2 separate regions of the Homo sapiens genome follow, and region 2 is linked to region 1. Evidence: fine-mapped expression QTL. Tissue or cell type: whole blood. Region 1 holds a variant in brackets; the other region holds the start of a gene. All regions are shown on one strand. Distances are from middle to middle.

The links. PIP is the estimated chance that this variant, and not a neighbour inherited with it, causes the effect.
Region 2: FOXJ1 starts here. The variant in region 1 is fine-mapped to the expression of FOXJ1 in whole blood (TOPMed, PIP 0.96).

Annotation. Positions count from the first base shown.
Region 1 is chr17:76,189,683-76,197,825 of GRCh38, forward strand. All of the region lies in intron 2 of RNF157 (ring finger protein 157), which reads right to left. Among named protein-coding and RNA genes, the nearest start is that of RNF157, 47 kb to the right of the region's middle. RefSeq lists an enhancer at 1,090-1,589. The variant G/A (reference allele first, on the strand shown) is at 3,762.
Region 2 is chr17:76,137,502-76,145,575 of GRCh38, forward strand. FOXJ1 (forkhead box J1) reads right to left here and starts at 3,744. Exons shown (of 3, transcript NM_001454.4): 1 at 3,613-3,744; 2 at 2,397-3,063; 3 at 1-619. The coding sequence starts at 2,894. RNF157 (ring finger protein 157) reads right to left here. Exons shown (of 19, transcript NM_052916.3): 19 at 4,973-7,852. The coding sequence ends at 7,734. It overlaps RNF157-AS1 (RNF157 antisense RNA 1), which reads left to right and starts at 3,055. Exons shown (of 8, transcript NR_040017.1): 1 at 3,055-3,179; 2 at 5,729-5,847; 3 at 7,421-7,585; 4 at 7,921-8,063. RefSeq lists enhancers at 1-188, 189-848, 1,511-2,170, 7,332-7,880, 7,847-7,906 and 2 more and silencers at 2,582-2,771, 2,832-2,901, 3,580-3,739.

The DNA.
Region 1 (8,143 bases):
TTTCCATCCCCATGGCTGAGGAAACAAAAGGGAGAGGTTGGGTTCTCAGATCCTGGAAGCCCGGAGAAGGGACCCTCCGAAGCTGGGACTCAGACTTCTGAGGTGAGGGTACTGCCCAGCTGGTTCTGGGTTTGTTGGGAGGAGAACACAAACAAAAACAACTGAAGGCTGAAACAAACTGCAGCTGGTGGGATGAAAAGGCATTGCTGGGATGGTGGTCATAGGAACAGCCAGGCGCAAGAAGCAGTGGGTCCTTCTCCTCCAGCCCTGTAGACCTTCCAGCACCTCCCACTGGCAGCACATGGCCAAGTGTAGCAAGCAATGGAGAGAGCCGCAGAGTCCCAGCCCCAGTGTTCACAGGGTGGTGTGGGGCCAGGAAATAACAGTGGAATTGTGGAGACAAATAACTTTGTAAAGGGTAGATGTGACCCACTGATACTTATTACCCTTACTTCTGTTAAGTGCTCAGGCTAACTGCTTGCTCTCTCTTTTTTTTTTTTTTTTGAAATAGATTCTCACTGTCAACCAGGCTGGAGTGCAGTGGCACAATTTCGCCTCACTGCGACTTCCACCTCCCGGGTTCAAGTAATTCCCTTGCCTCAGCCTCCTGAATAGCTAGGTCCACAGGCACGTGCCACCATACCCAGCTAATTTTTATATTTTTAGTAGAGACGGAGTTTCGCCATGTTGGCCAGGCTGGCCTCAAACCCCTGGCCCCAAGTGATCTGCCTGCCTCAGCTTCCCAAAGTGCTGGGATTACAGGTGTGAGCCACTGTGCTTGGCCATTCTCTCTTTTAAAAATAGTTTACACTGGGCACAGTGTCCAGGGAAATCGCTTGAGTCCAGGGAAGTCAAAGCTGCAGTGAGCCATGATCATGCCACTGCACTCCAGCCTGGGTGACAGAGTGAGACCCCATCTCAAAAAAAAAAAAAAAGAATTAAAAAAATAGTTTACGGCCGGGCGTGATGGCTCACGCCTGTAATCCCAGCACTTTGGGAGGCCGAGACGGGTGGATCACGAGGTCAGGAGATCGAGACCACGATGAAACCCCGTCTCTACTAAAAACACAAAAAATTAGCCGGGCATGGTGGCAGGCGCCCTGTAGTCCCAGCTACTCCAGAGGCTGAGACAGAAGAATGGCACGAACCCGGGAGGCGGAGCTTGCAGTGAGCCGAGATCGTGCCACTGCACTCCAGCCTGGGCGACAGGGCGAGACTCTGTCTCAAAAAAAAAAAAAAGTTTACACGGCTGAATGCAGTGGCTCACACCTGTAGTCCCGGCACTTTGGGAGGCCAGGAGTTCAAGACCAGCCTGGGCAACATAGTGGGACTGTTTCTACAAAAAGAAAAAAAAAAAAGTTACGATATGGATTAGCAGAGGACATAAACCTCTTGTGTTACCAGCATTTAAGTTTTTAATAAGTAGAAAATATGGCTAAGGACTACATTCTATTCTATAATTATACCAACATTTACCCTAAAGTTCAGTGCTGCCTTCTATAGATAAAGTGGGCTGGGTGTGGTGGCTTATGCCTATAATCCCAGTACTTTGGGAAGCTGAGGCAGGAGGATCGCTGGAGCCCAGGAGTTCAAGATCGGTTAGGGCAACATAGTGAGACACCGTCTCTACAAAAAAATAAAAAATTAGGGCTGGGCGCGGTGGCTCACACCTGTAATCCCAACACTTTGGGAGGCTGAGGCGGGAGGATCATGAGGTCAGGAGTTTAAGACCAGCCTGGCCAAAACCCTGTCTCTACTAAAAATACAAAAATTAGCTGGGCGTGGTGGCAGGCACCTGTAATCCCAGTTACTCAGGAGGCTGAGGCAGAGAATTGCTTGAACCCGGAGGTGGAGGTTGCAGTGAGCTGAGATCACGCCACTGCACTCCAGCCTGGGCGACAGAGCAAGACTCCGCCTCAAAAAAAAAAAAAAAAAAAAAACATTAGCCAGGTGTAGTGGTATGTGCCTGTAGTCCCAGCTCCTAGGAAGGCTGACGTGGGAGGACTGCTTGAGCCTGGGAGGTTGAAACTACAATGAGCTATAATTGCACCACTGCACTTCAGCCTGGGTGACAGAGGCAGACCCTGTCTAAAAAAATATTAAAATGTAAAGATAAAGTATATGTCTGATTAATTTCTGTAATAATCAGGGCTACTATTTTATTTGATTGGCCGGGAAAGACCATCTTAGAGAATGAAGTGTGCTGCTTAGGGACAAAATTTACGTGTAATCAACTGTTAAGCTATTTGACTCGTAAGTCTTTGACAATACAATACAGACTTTTATATAACAGTTTCAGTAACAGTTAAGGCCACTATGCATCTCTTTAAATGCTGAAAAAGTTAACCAGATTTTTCTTTGAAATGCAAAACCAGTAAGTATAGTTTCCCGTCAGATGGGGTGCACAATGACAACAGGAAACAGAGGTGAGAGTGTGCACACTTGGTTTCAATATGTTTCAAAGAAATTTCGAGGAAATTCCTACAACACAGATGCTTTAGTTCCACTACTGAATACCACAGCAGTTCTTTGTACTCTGGTTTGTTAAGAAACATGGCATCAAACAACGAAGCAAAAGTTCAAGCACTTAGTGGCACTTTTCGAGTCAGCAACATTTACATTATAAAGTTCCTTTCTCCAAGCTTTTACATGACTATTTTTATACTTCATTTTTCACTCCCTGCTCTGTATTATAGCTATGTATGTCCAAGTCTGATCTTCTCCATGAAATTATAAACTTGAGGGCAAAATCCATGTAGGAATCCTCTTCGTGTTACCCCTAGTGATTAGACCAGCACATACAGAAGGCAGAAATAGATGTCTGTAGAATGAATACACGAACAACAAGATCTTCGGAAGAGTACAGCATATGCCCATGGTGACTCTTTAGATTTTGAATATTTGCCCCGCAGACTAAATGGCAGACTGGTACAATTAATGCTCACAAAATAACTGAAAAACACAGACCACCATGTGTTTTTAAATTAAGGGTTTGTGGAGTAATACTGAGTAAGCTTGACTAGCAGCTGAAACCCTCTGGTTCTGCCAGTGAGTTGTATGAAAGACTGGAAAATGAAGATGAAATGATTTAATAAAACAAGTATGATATCAACAGCCAGAAGACACAGGTTCTTGTTTCAGCTCTCCCACTTTCTTTCCTTTTTTTTTTTTTTTTTTGAGACAGCATCCGCTCTCTTGCACAGGGTGACTGCGATGGCCATCACTGCAGTCTCAACCTCTCAGGCTCAAGTGATTCTCCCACTTCAGCCACGTGAGTAACAGCCGCGCGCCACCACACCTAGCTAATTTTTGACTTTTTGTAGAGACGGGACCTCGCTGTTTCCCAGGCTGGTCTCAAACTCCAGAGCTCAAGTGATCCTCCCGCCTCGGCCTCCCAACATGCTGGGATTACAGGCGTGGGCCAGAGCACTCAGCCTTCTCTCACTTCATACACAAGACTTTGGGCAAATAACTTAACATCTCTGAGCATCAATGTCCTTATCTGTAAAATGAGATTTATAGCTTCTGTCTATCTCATAGGGTCATTAAGATCAAATAAAAATGTTTTGAAAACCATACAGTGCTATAAAAATATATGTTATCATTAGTGATCCTTAGTGATTAGCATTAGTGATAACATCTTCATTAAAGAACTTGTAATGCTATTTTGAATGCTTGGAAAAAATAATGCACAAATGAAATACAAGCAATTAGGTAAGTATCTCTTATCTACAAATCCCAAAGCACTTGAAGTAAATACA[G/A]TTAGGATATATCTCACTTGGTCGTGACCCAGAAGAATTATTGTAGATCTGCCCTATATTCTACTGGAATTTAACATCTTGGAAACAGCTACCCCCACCACCCCCCACCCACGGACACATACAAGTTTCTACCATAGTGACTGAAAGGCTCTCTGAGATTCTCGGTTTAGGATCACTAGGGAAATGGAAGACACTGTCTAAGGTAACGTGAGAGTTAAGCACGTTCTCCTTTTGTCTGTTGTGACCCTGACTGTCTAACAAACAAACGTGACTTCTGAAGCCTGATCCGAAACAATCAGGAGCTGAGCGAGAAAACAAAACAGAGGTCTGAGGCACAGCTCCTGGGCAGGCTCTCCCGCATCCTGCAGTGAGGCTGCCGCACCCATAGTTTCAGATCTGAGATTAGCGCCTGGCCGAGGGCTGCTGATGCAGGAGCAATGCTGCCCTGCTACCCCTCCCACCTCCACATCCACAGACAGCCCTGGGGGACACGGCTACCACTTCTCTGGGGTACACGTCCACAAACGGGACTCCCTGGACTACATGGGAACCAGGCCACAGAGAAGGCAATCACATTTCTATTAATCACCTCTTTCCAAGGCACATTCTGTTTTTTTGTTGGTTTGTTTATCAAGGTATAATTTATATACAGTAAAATTCAGCCTTTTTGGTGTACAGTTCTGTGAATTTTGACAAACACACACAACAGTGTAACCACCATTACAAACAAAATAAAGAACATTTCCATTACCCCCACATTCCCTTGTGCCCTCTCTAGTCAACTCCTCCATGCACCCCAGTCCCTGGCAACCATTGATCTATTTCTTATCTCTATCGTTTTGCTCTTTCCAGAATGACACAACACTCTTTACAATGCTTAAGTAAAATAGCCAAAGGCCTCATTCAGTTCGCATAGAACACCACGCACTCAGCCACCATAGGAGACTTTCAAATACATCAGAAATAGTGAAGCCAGTCTGATGGTGGGAAGGGCGGTAAATTCACTAGAGCCTGAGATGACTCTGCAGGCTCTGCTGAAAGACCCCCGAAAGCAGGACGCTTCTTAGTGGGCTGTGAAGTGGATAGTTTAAACCCAAAGACAAATAACTCATTTAAAATAGTCTCTATAGAAATGGCCTATGTCCTCTTCCATGATTGTATAATATACAGTACCAGACACGATTAGGTTTCCTTCCAGTTTAGATAACTCTGCTTTCTTCTGAATTGCTACTAAAACAATAGTAAAGAGATTTAAAAAGAGAGAGAGAAAAATATAAAACCACAAGAGCAGGCCGGGCACGGTGGCTCACACCTGTAATCCCAGCACTTTGGGAGGCCAAGGTGGGCAGATCACGAGGTCAGGAGATCGAGACCATCCTGGCTAACATGGTGAAACCCCGTCTCTACTAAAAATACAAAAAATTAGCCAGGCGTGGTGGCGGGCGCCTGTAGTCCCAGCTACTCAGGAGGCTGAGGCAGCAGAATGGCGTGAACCCGGGAGGTGGAGTTTACAGTGAGCCGAGATAGCACCACTGCACTCCAGCCTGGGTGACAGAGCGAGACTCTGTCTCAAAAAAACAAAACAAAACACAAGAGCAGAGGGAATGGGAGAGGATATTATAATAAAAACTTGGAAGCTGAAACACACACTGACAAGTGGAAAGCGATTCAGGAGAACAGAAAGGGCCGAAATCCCAAATGGCAGAAACATATTCATGTCACAGAACTCCAGACAGGCTTAGGAAATGGAGGTGTAGGTCCTCCTACAAGCGGGGTAGAGCAAGGCTGGAAACAGGAGACTGGGGTTGGTGTGAAAAGCATTTAGACCCCTAGATCTTTTTCCAGACACCACGTAACCAGGAGATCACCTGTCTCTCCAACTTCATTGGTTATCGGGAAAATGAAAATAAATTCTACAAACCTACCACAATGGCTAAGATTAAAAAGATGGAAAATACTAGGTGCTGGACATTCTAAACACTGCTAGTGGGAAAAAAAAATTGGTAGAATCACTTTGAAAAGCGGTTAGCGGTATCTACTACAGCATATTCTATGACTCAGCAATTCTCCTAGCTATAGCCTTAACAGGTATGCATACATATACACAACAAAATACATGTAATAATAGAACGTTCATAGCAGCACTATGTGTAATAGCCAAAATGCCCCAAAAAAGCTCAATGCCTGCAAACAATAGAGTGGATAAATTATGGTGTATTCACACAATGAAATACTATGCAGCAATGGAAATGAACCGTACACAGCACAGGAATAGTTTGTTCCTTCTCGTTGCTGTACGCCATTGAGGTAGGATGTAGGACTTGACTCAAGAAGTGAGACTCAACTCCAGAGGTGGGGCTCGCACATCAGACTAAATTGAGCACAAGCTAAAACAGGGACTGGGCAGAAGCAGCTTTCCATAAGATAGCCCATACCTCCCATACCTGTCAGTGTGTGCCATGTCAGTTTACTATTGCCACGGCAACACCTGGAAGTTACCACCCTCTTTCATGGCAATGACCCAATGACCCGGAAGGTACTATCCTTCTTGAAATTTCTTTATAATTTGTCCCTTAATTTGCACATAATTAAAAGTGGGTATAAATATGATTACAAACCTGCTCTGAGCCGCTACTCTCAACACACTGCCTTTGGGTAGCCCTGCTCTGCAGGAGCAGTCACAGAGCTGTAACACTGCCGCCTCAATAAAGCTGTTTTCTTCCACCACTGGCTCTTAAATTCTTTCCTGAGCAAAGCCAAGGACCCTCCTGGGCTAAGCTACCATGAGATAAATAAATGTCACAAAGATGCTGAGTGAAAGGAGCCAGACATTAAAGAGCAAATTGAACACAGTTCCACTTATATAAAGTTCAAACCAGGACAGAAGTTAGGATTGCGGTTACCTTAGGCTAGAGGTAACAACAGGAAAGGAGCAGAAGGGGAGCTTCTGGGGGTGCTGGCCATGTGCTACTTCTTCATCTGAATGCTGGCCACAGCGGAGGGCTCACTTTGTGAAAATCAACTGTGCATGGATGACTTGTCATCTTTCTGTGTGTATGTTATACATCAATAAATATTTTTAAAGAGGACAAGTCAGCCCTAGGTAAATGGATCTAGAATGATCTCCAATATGATACACCATTAAATTAAAAAGCAAGGGCCGAAGTATGTACGGGAGTGTAGTCATGTGCTGGCGTCCCAACCTTCCCCAACTCCCTCCCCAGGTCTCTGTACCCCTGCTGTGGAGAGTTTTGGCTACAAACAGCCATAGCTACCCCTTCTCCAAGAACTGGGAACCAGAGCCACCTGATCCAAGAGTCTTCCTGATTCCCTATCTCACTCCAGGACAGCCACCAACAGCCAGTGACTGATTGACAGGGCTGTACAAAAAGCTGGCCCCTTTACCTTGAGATGAAGCAACTCTGTGGTACAAGCTGTACTCCAAAGCTTTCCCGTGGGACCAGGCCAAAATGGGTCTTGGCCAAGACCGCACTCATGTTTGGTTTTGCTCCACTGCCCCATCTGTCTTCCTCATCTCTAGAGAGCATTCCCTCAATAAACAGCTTTCACAAAGATCTCCATCTCAGGCTTTGCTCCCAGAGAACCCAACCTAAACCGGTTGATATCAGATGTTGTCTATGGATGGAATTTGGGGGTGGATCACCCACAGCCAGATGGCAATGAGGACCCATCACTGAGGTGGGTGGAAAGTGGATGGTCCCCAGCATGCTGCAGACATTCCCCTGTGGTGAAGGGGAATAGGAGACACGGGGCTGTATAATATCCAGGCGATTTTGATGTCTTGGTACAGGAGGTACAGGAGAAACAGTTACAGTAAGGACTGTGAAACTGGGTGACTGCTATTAAGAGGACTGTTTCATTGAAAAGAGAAAATGAGTTTCAGGTATAGCAATCAAAAATGTAAAGCCAACTATGAGCCTGGATGTGGTGGCTCATGCCTGTAATCCCAGAAATTTGGAAGGCTGAGGCGGGAAGATCACTTGAGGCCAGGTGTTTGAGACCACCCTGGGCAACACAGCAAGACCCCATCTTTATAAGAAAAACTAAAAATAAAGAAATAAAGCCAGCTATGATAGTCAGTAAGCTTCCTTTGGCAATTTTTACTTATTTATTAATTTATTTGAGATAGGGTCTCAATATGGTACCCAGGCTTGGAGTGCAGTGGTGTGAACATAGTTCACTGCAGCCTCAAACTTCTGTCTCAAGCCATCTTCCCACCTCAGCCTCCCGAGTGCTGGGATTACAGATGTGCCACCATGCCAGGCTGCTTTGGCAGCATTTAAAGACAATCATTTCCTGCAGGCACAAGACCTAATTTTAAGAGTGGCAGAATCAAAAAGGATGAACTCTCAGCCTATACT
Region 2 (8,074 bases), 52 kb before region 1:
CGAAGTCCAGGCTGTCGGCAGCCTGCTCCACCGAAGGCCCCCAGGTGGCAGGGCAGTCGATGTGGCGGCCGTGGATGGTGAGGTCCACGTCCACGTGTGAGGCGGGGCTCAGAGGCGGGCTCAGCTCCAGGGCCTCCAGTGCACCCAGCTCCCCGCCCAGAGTGCCGGCGTCGAAGATGGCCTCCCAGTCAAAGTTGCCTTTGAGGGGTTCCAGCTCACCCTGCTCCTCCGGGGTGGGCAGCAGGGTGCTGGGGGGCCGCGGGACCTTGGCCACCCGCTTGGGCAGCGGCTGTTTGCGCTTATGCCCCAGCCTGCCCTCGCCTGCACCCCAGCCCGCCTCCCCGGTGGCCTCCTCGAACTCCCGCAGCAGCTGCTGGGCCTCGGTATTCACCGTCAGCGGCCCGGCCCGGGGGACAGCGCTGGGCTCCTGCGCGGCCTGGCGGGCAAAGGCTGGGTGGATGTGGACAGGGGGCAGTCGCCGCTTCTTGAAAGCGCCGCTCAGTAGCCGCTCCGCGTACTGGGGGTCAATGCGCCAGAAGCCCCCCTTGCCTGGTTCGTCCTTCTCCCGAGGCACTTTGATGAAGCACTTGTTCAGAGACAGGTTGTGGCGGATTGAATTCTGGGTGCAGGGAGAGAGCAAGAGAGAGAGGAACCGCTAGGTCAGTGGGGACGGGGAGATGAAATGGCACCTGGCGCTGCTGCGCACCCCCCATCTTTTCTCTGGCAGGGGAGAGGAGGGGGGGACAGACACACTGGTCTGCCCAGGCGGCTGCAGCTCTGGGACACCAGCCACAGGGCACTGGGAGCCCGGAGTGCTGTCGGAGGCTTTTGTTCCCTGTTGCCGGGATATCTGCCTGCTCAGTCATCCGAGCTCTGAGCCGCAGGGTGGCTCTCGGTGCCACCCCCGTCGCCTGCCCTCCCTCCCTCACCCTGCCGCTGACAGCCTCTGGCCAAAGCCCTCGGCTCCCCCAGGGCCTGGACCACCGTCTCCCTTTGCCTGGGCCTGGCTGGCCCTCTCTGTGAGTGAGTGGGTCCAGGGAGGGGGCTGGGCAGCCGAGAGTGGAGAGGAAGGGGGAGAGAGAGAGAGAGCGCGCAGGGATGAGAGGTGGGGGATCTGATGACTTTCCTTGTTTGTTGAGCCGGCTGCTGGCCTGGGCCTTCACCCCCCACGGCCCCCTCCCCCCACTCCAGGCTCAGTTGATTATTACCCAGCCAAGAGCTAAGAGCATAGCACTCATTCCTGGGGCCCGTTTCTCGAAGCGCAGCTGCACAGGCTTAGGGTAGGGTGGGGCTGAGGGTCTCTGCTTTTTCGGTGCAGCTGCAAATGACCCTGCTCTAGGGTCAGGGGCATTGGAAATGGCTTGGGACTGCGGTCCTGTGGCCTGCCCGCTTTGGGTGCTTCAGGGAAGAGTCTGGGCGTCCTTGGGGGGCCCCTGACTCCAACTAGCCCTTGATGGTGATGGCTGAAGACTCTTAGGGCACTGCCTACCCAGCCTCAAATCCACCATCCTCCTGCCTTGTCCATTCTTAGGTGCTTAATCTTGTCCAAAGCCTGCTGGGGGACAGGGGTCCTGGGCTGGGACGGCAGGGCAGGTGGGTGGATAATGCCCGGCAGCAAGGCTGGGATGTTTACATGGTGGCCTGGGCCCCTTGGCTGCTCAGTGCCTGGTTCCAGAGACGTGGAACACGAAGTGAGTGTGGTAGGCAGAGCCCCAGTGGAAGGCACCTGGCTCAGGTAATTGTCCCCCCAGGGAGGTTGGCTGACAGCGGGGGTTGGAGGCAGGAAACTGAGCAGAGGTTGAGGTGGGGGGCTGGGACAGCAGCTTTAGGAAGGCCCCTTACCCCCTCCACCCTCCATTGGGACACACCTGGCCCTCACATGCTAAGGCACCCCTTCCATTCCACCCTCCCCAAGCCAACTGCAAAAGGGCAGGACGTAGAGCCTGGCAGGGAGGCCACGTTCCAGTTTCCGTTTCTGACTCCCGGCCCCGACAAACCATCCCGGGGCAGGGCAGTGTCTAGGAATTCTAGGACTTGGGACAAGAATGCGCCTTCAGTTCATCGCTCTCCCCAAGGAGATTCTGTCCACGCAGAGTCTAGCCCTGGTCTTTGGCCTGGGCCTGCTGGATGAATGGCAGGTTATTTCCCCTTGAATCTCAGCCTCTGCACCCCTAAAGCCCTCCACCTCTGGACATTCTCCCTTCTCTCTCTCTCTCTCTCTGGAAGTCAAAGGAGGGGCAGTTGCAAGAACTGGGCTCCTTTGCAGGGCTCCCTTCTGGGGCGCTGGCCGCACCGCAGAGCCTACTTGGCCTGCAGATTTGGGATATGAATCCAGTGCAGCGTGGGGAGCGAGGAGGGAATGGGGAGGGAGCGGCCGCCGCCCGTGCCTCCTCTACCTGCCAGGTGGGATCTGCGTGGCGGAAGTAGCAGAAGTTGTCCGTGATCCACTTGTAGATGGCCGACAGGGTGATCTTGGTGGCCTTGCTGGCCTGCATGGCCATGCAGATGAGCGTGGCATACGAGTAGGGAGGCTTCACGTGCGGATTGGTGGCGTAGTCCACGTCGTCGGGGGGTGGGGCCTGCAGCCCCGGGGGCGCGCTCCGCGACGTGCACGACGACGTGGGCTTGCCCGGCGTGTGTGGCTGCCCCAGGCAGGCGGGGTCGGCCGCCAGGGGGGACCCGGGCGCCGCTGAACCTGGCACCTGGTGGTAGCCGTGGGGGTCGGTGCCCCCCGGGGGCAGGGCGGGGGCCTTGGCGTTGAGAATGGAGAATTCCTGCAGCCACTGCAGGCTGGTCAGGCTGTCATCCAGGGCGTCGGGCTCCTCCAGGCCGCCCTCCGGCCCGGCCTCCTCCGCCGGCCCGGCTCCCGAGAGGCGCAGCCAGCTCTCCGCCATGTCTGCGGGGACTCTCCGAGGGGGCGGTCAGCATCCACGGGCTGAGCCGGGGGTGGCCCGCCGCGCTCTCTGGCCCGCTGAGTCCCGCAGCTCCCGTTACACGGCCTCCCGGACGCGCGCTTCCATCTCGCGACCCCGGGGGCGCCTCCTCCGAATAAGTATGTGGTGCCTGCGAGGACCACGGTGGGAGCTGAGCACTACCCCACCCCCGAGGGGACAGTGTGTGTACGGGGACGCCCTCTCTAACATCATCCCCGCAGCTGGGGAGGATCTTTTAGTGCCGAGGTATGGGAAACAGAAGCAAGGCCCTGGGGTCCCACCCCCATCAGATCTGCCTCCCTCTTCCTTTCCTCTTCGAGGTTTTATTAGCCAAATGAAGAGGGTAGGGGCATCCGAGGCTATCCTTTTCTCCCGAAGAGCAGGAAATCAGGACCCCCTTCCTCCTCGCAACAAATGGAAGTGGGGCGAGAAGTTTGGGAGGGCGGTACGACGGGGCGGGGGCGGTGGAGGTCCTCTGATCCTTGAAAAGGAATATTATGATAGGGGATCATTGGGAAGGAAGGGGACGGAACAGTAACGGGGGGCAGGAGGCGAGTTTCCCCCAGACTTCTCCGATGTCAGTCCCTGGGCCCACCACTTCCGTTAAGGACGAATGAGAGAGCGGGTTGGTACCGTTGCCCACCCTTCCCCCTGGCCTGCAGCCCTCCCCATCCCTTACCTGGCTCAGAGCGCAGCCCGGGCCAGAGGAAGGTTCTGGAAGAAGTTGCTCCCACCCCCTGCGGCTCTCTGCCCCCAGCTCGGGGGCCCTGCCAGCGCCTCTTGCCGCCCCCCCGCCCGACGGCGCTTCTCTGAGCTACCGCGGCCCCGGGACCGGCATTAAGTAGCCGCTCCAAAGGCTTCTCCTGCTGCCATGGCGACGCTCCGCCCCCATAAACAGCTTCCGCCTCTGCCATTGGCCAGCACGTCTCCAAGGAGACCGCGGGCACTTGCCACTCTCCCTGGCGGCAACTCTCTTCGAACTCCCTCCTTCTGCCGCCCTCTCCCGCGCCACCCAACCCCCTACCCGCCGCTAAGTCCCGGCTCGGCTCATTCCCGCCCGAGGGCCCCGCGCTGGGGTCGGAGAAGCGCGCGGCCTGCGGCACCGGGAACCGCTATGGATCCGTTCGTTCTGGGGAACCAAGACTCTCGCCCCCACCCCCTTCCTGTCCCGTACGCTTTGAGGCGTCGACTGCTCCTGGGACGGAGCCTGGGGTTGGGGGGCTAAGGCTGGGAGCGGGCTCAGGCTCGGGAACCGTATCCTTGAGGTTTTCTTTCCTCTCCGCTACGAGTGGCACTTTCTCATGTTTCTGCAGCCTTTCCCTCTCCCCCGACTCTTAGGGTCTTTCTCTGGTGTCCCAGGCAGGTCTGACTTTCCGATGCCACCTGCCGCTTACATCCACAGAGGCGGCAGACACACCAAGGGGGTAGGGTAATCCAGTGTGTCCCAGTAAGCAGCTCCTTCCCCACCCGTATCCTCGAGGTTCCAGGAAGCTGACATTCCAGAGGCTTCTGCAGAAGCGCACTCACTCCTCTGGAGACAGCTGATGAAGCAGAGCCCGTGGGTAAAACTCTGAAGTCATGGACTTGTCAAATTCTCCTAGCGGGGTCATTTGCCCAATTAATTTCACCAACCTTTAAGTCACAGGGATTAAGAGTAGAGGGACTCTGGGGACTGTGTCCCTTCCTCCTCCCTTCCCCTGGCCTCCCTCCTGTCACCAGCTTTCCTGCTCTTTAATTATTGAGGAGCTGCAGGGTTGGACGTTCTCCGGTTTAAGGCGGCTGCAGAGGCAGTGGTGGGGGCTGGGTTGATTACCCCGCCTCTGCCCAGGAGCTGGAGAGCCGGGGTCGGGGAGGCTGGTGCCCAGACCATGAAGAAGGCCCGGCTATGGCGCATCACTCCCCCGCCAACATGCCTTTCCCTAGCCCTTGCCTCTCCCACTCCTCCAACTCCAGATCCTCTTGAGTAAAAGTATTAAAGAGTGCTGGCGAAAGTCAGACAGAAACTTTCACAGATAAGCTCACTTTGCAGTTAGCTCTCCTTCCCTTGTAAACAGTTTTATTCATTTTTAAGAATCATGCAGCAATCCATAAATATTGCATTCTTGATGTCCCCACTGTAGTGTGACCACAAGTGTACTCCAGGGAGAGGGGTACACAGATGGCACAAGCAGTATACACATGCACACACCAGGTGTGCAGACCAAAGCAAAGTGAGCGACCAGCGTGCTAAACTCCAGGTGGGCAGGACCCCAACTCCCAGGTGAGGTGGGCAGGACCCTAACTCCCAGGCCAGCCGGCTTAGAGTGTGGTGGTCTGTGCCCAGGAGATGCCTCAGCGGGGGTAGAAACTCTGGTGGGATGGAGCTGGGCAGAAGGAAAAAAGGGCTCTGTGAGGAAGCCGGGATCACACCACCTGAAGGCAATAGGGAGAGCACAGGCCTAGTGCAGCAGGAAGGAGCCCTGGGTCTCCATAGTTAGGCTGTGCCCTGTGGGAGAAGCCAGGCCCCACCTCTTCTCTTTGGGTGAACTGTTGACGTGACTATGTGACTGTCTCCAGATGAAGGACTGGGGCAAAAGGGTTGGCCACTGACCTGTCCTCATCAGGCTGACTGAGGACCAGCTCCTTGGATGGAGTATTTCTGTGGGCCAGAGAGCTAAATGACAGCCAAGAGAAGGCAGGGGGAGGGAGGAAGAGGAGAAATAGTAACTGAGAAACAAGTAAAGGACATTTCTAACCTAGGTATGCCTTGGACATGGGACTGAGGCCTTGAGGAATCTTTCCGTGCTTCTCCCTAGGAGAGGACTAAGCACCTGCTGCGAGGAAGGACAGGGATCCTCAGGAAGGGGGTCCTGGCCACTGTGGCTACTGTTTACCTGAATCTCCTTCATCTCAGCTCCTTCCTCCCTCCTCCCAGGTAACACCACACTGTGAATACTACCTGCAGGGGACAGGACAGGAGGTGGTCTGTGTGCCACCACCCCAGGGTAAGGGAAGCTCCCTGTCACCTGCTGCTTCTGGGCTCATATTTCAGGGAAATCAGGAAGTGGGGTTATTGCTCAGCTTATGCATCTTAACTATGAAAGGGGCGGGAAGAATGTAGGGGGAAGGAAGGAAAGAACATTAGGTGGGGCCTGAAATGGTAAAGTCTACTGCAGTTTTTCAGAGAGGGTTGGACGACAGGCCCCCCTCTCCATCAGGGCAGGATGTGAGCCACAACCACTAGGCAGTGAGACAGTCACTGCACTCCTGGCCTCTGCAGCCACACAGAAACGAAGGACCCCCTGGGCACCAGGCTCTTTTTGAGGCTGCCTTGGAAACAGCCTTGAATTTTTTTTTTTTTGTTTGAGACAGAGTTTCGATCTTTTCAATCTTGTAGCCCAGGCTGGAGTGCAGTGGCACGATCTTGGCTCACCGCAACCTCCACCTCCTGAGTTCAAGCGATTCTCCTGCCTCAGCCTCCCGAGTAGCTGGGGAGGGCCCTTGAAGTGAAGGCCCTGAGCCCTGATTCCAACCTCTGCTCCCAGCACACTGCTGCTGGCCACATGCTGCTGCCTGAACTTAGCTCAAGGCTCTCCATCACTTCCTTTGGGGACCTGGGCACCAAACTGAGAATCACTGGTCCACATTTCTCTCAACCATTAACAAAAGGGGGTAGAGATGGGGGCAACAGGGACAAGAATGCCACCTCCCAATTGAGTGAGGATGAATTATGGTAATATACGACCACTCCTCACCCAGTGCTTGGCACACAGAGGTGGTCAACACATGTGTTTCTTGAAATGTCACCTTAGGATGGAGTTGCAGGCCTCCCTGAATGCACCTGATCAGGAGAAATGCTCCTTAAGGGAAATCATCTTAACTGGGGGATTCTCAGATTCAAGGGCTCCTTCTTTTTTTTTTTTTTTCTCTGTCGCCCAGGCTGGAGTGCATTGGCGCGATCTCGGCTCACTGCAAGCTCCGCCTCCCGGGTTCAGGCCATTCTCCTGCCTCAGCCTCCCAAGTAGCTGGGACTACAGGCGCCTGCAACCATGCCCAGCTAATTTTTTGTATTTTTAGTAGAGACGGGGTTTCGCCGTGTTAGCCAGGATGGTCTCGATCTCCTGATCTCATGATCCACCCGCCTCGGCCTCCCAAAGTGCTGGGATTACAGGCGTGAGCCACCGCGCCCGGCCAAGAGCTCCTTCTTAACCGCACAGGCATGTGAGGCCCAGAAGACTGGCTCTGCCACCAGAAGGAAGGATTGTTTCCTTCAACCAACCTTTTGGTTGCTACCATTTCTTGTCCTTGAGAAAGGTGCTCCTAGTGCTTGTAGAGGGAAACGCTACGTCCGTGCAGTATGGCTCTCCCTTTCCACAGGAGCGATCCTCCAGCCCTACCCCAAACTGCAGGTTTCCAATTGGTTATGATGTGCCAGAGACCAGGAAATGCCAGAGGGATGTTTGTAACAAAGCTGCCAAACTCTAAGCCTTCTTGTTCTACCCCCTAAGGAGAAAAAAGATGTGTAAGAAATTAGCCCATGGACCCCAGCTCCACCTGAACATCAATATACCGTGAGGACATTCCAGAGTCCCTGCAAAAGGTCTCGTGAGCTGCAGTTCATTGAGTGGCTTTAGGTCACACGGAGAAAGGAGGGTTCCAGTTCCCTCTGAGAGGTGAGGGATTGTGGTTACAGGTTGTAACAGCTGTCACAGGAGGGTAAAAAGTCTCCAGCATCTTGCTGAGGATGCCCAGTAGGCAGCAGCTGAGTGAGGATGGATGGAATGCAGGGCAGGAGGGGAGCCCAAGTGCAGAGGCTGGGGCTCAGACAGCCAAAGGGCCCCACACACAGGGCCTCGTCTCAGAGTCCTCCAGGCTGCTGGATGACAAGCGCCGGCGCTGGGCATTCCGACTGACGGCATTGTCATCAGCCTGCCAGGCACCTGGGGAAGAGAAAATGAACATTACAGGAGCCAGACCTTTGGCCAAATCCAGATGGTGTCTCCAGCAGGGCAGCCCAGGAGCCGGCACGGAAGGAGCAGGATGCGTGTCACCTGAGACTCCGATGACGGTGCGAGCCACAGCACTCGTGTGTGAGAACGGAGAGAAGCAGGTGCTGACAGGTGCAGAGCCTGCTCCTGCCCCCTGGGCTAGGTACAGTCACT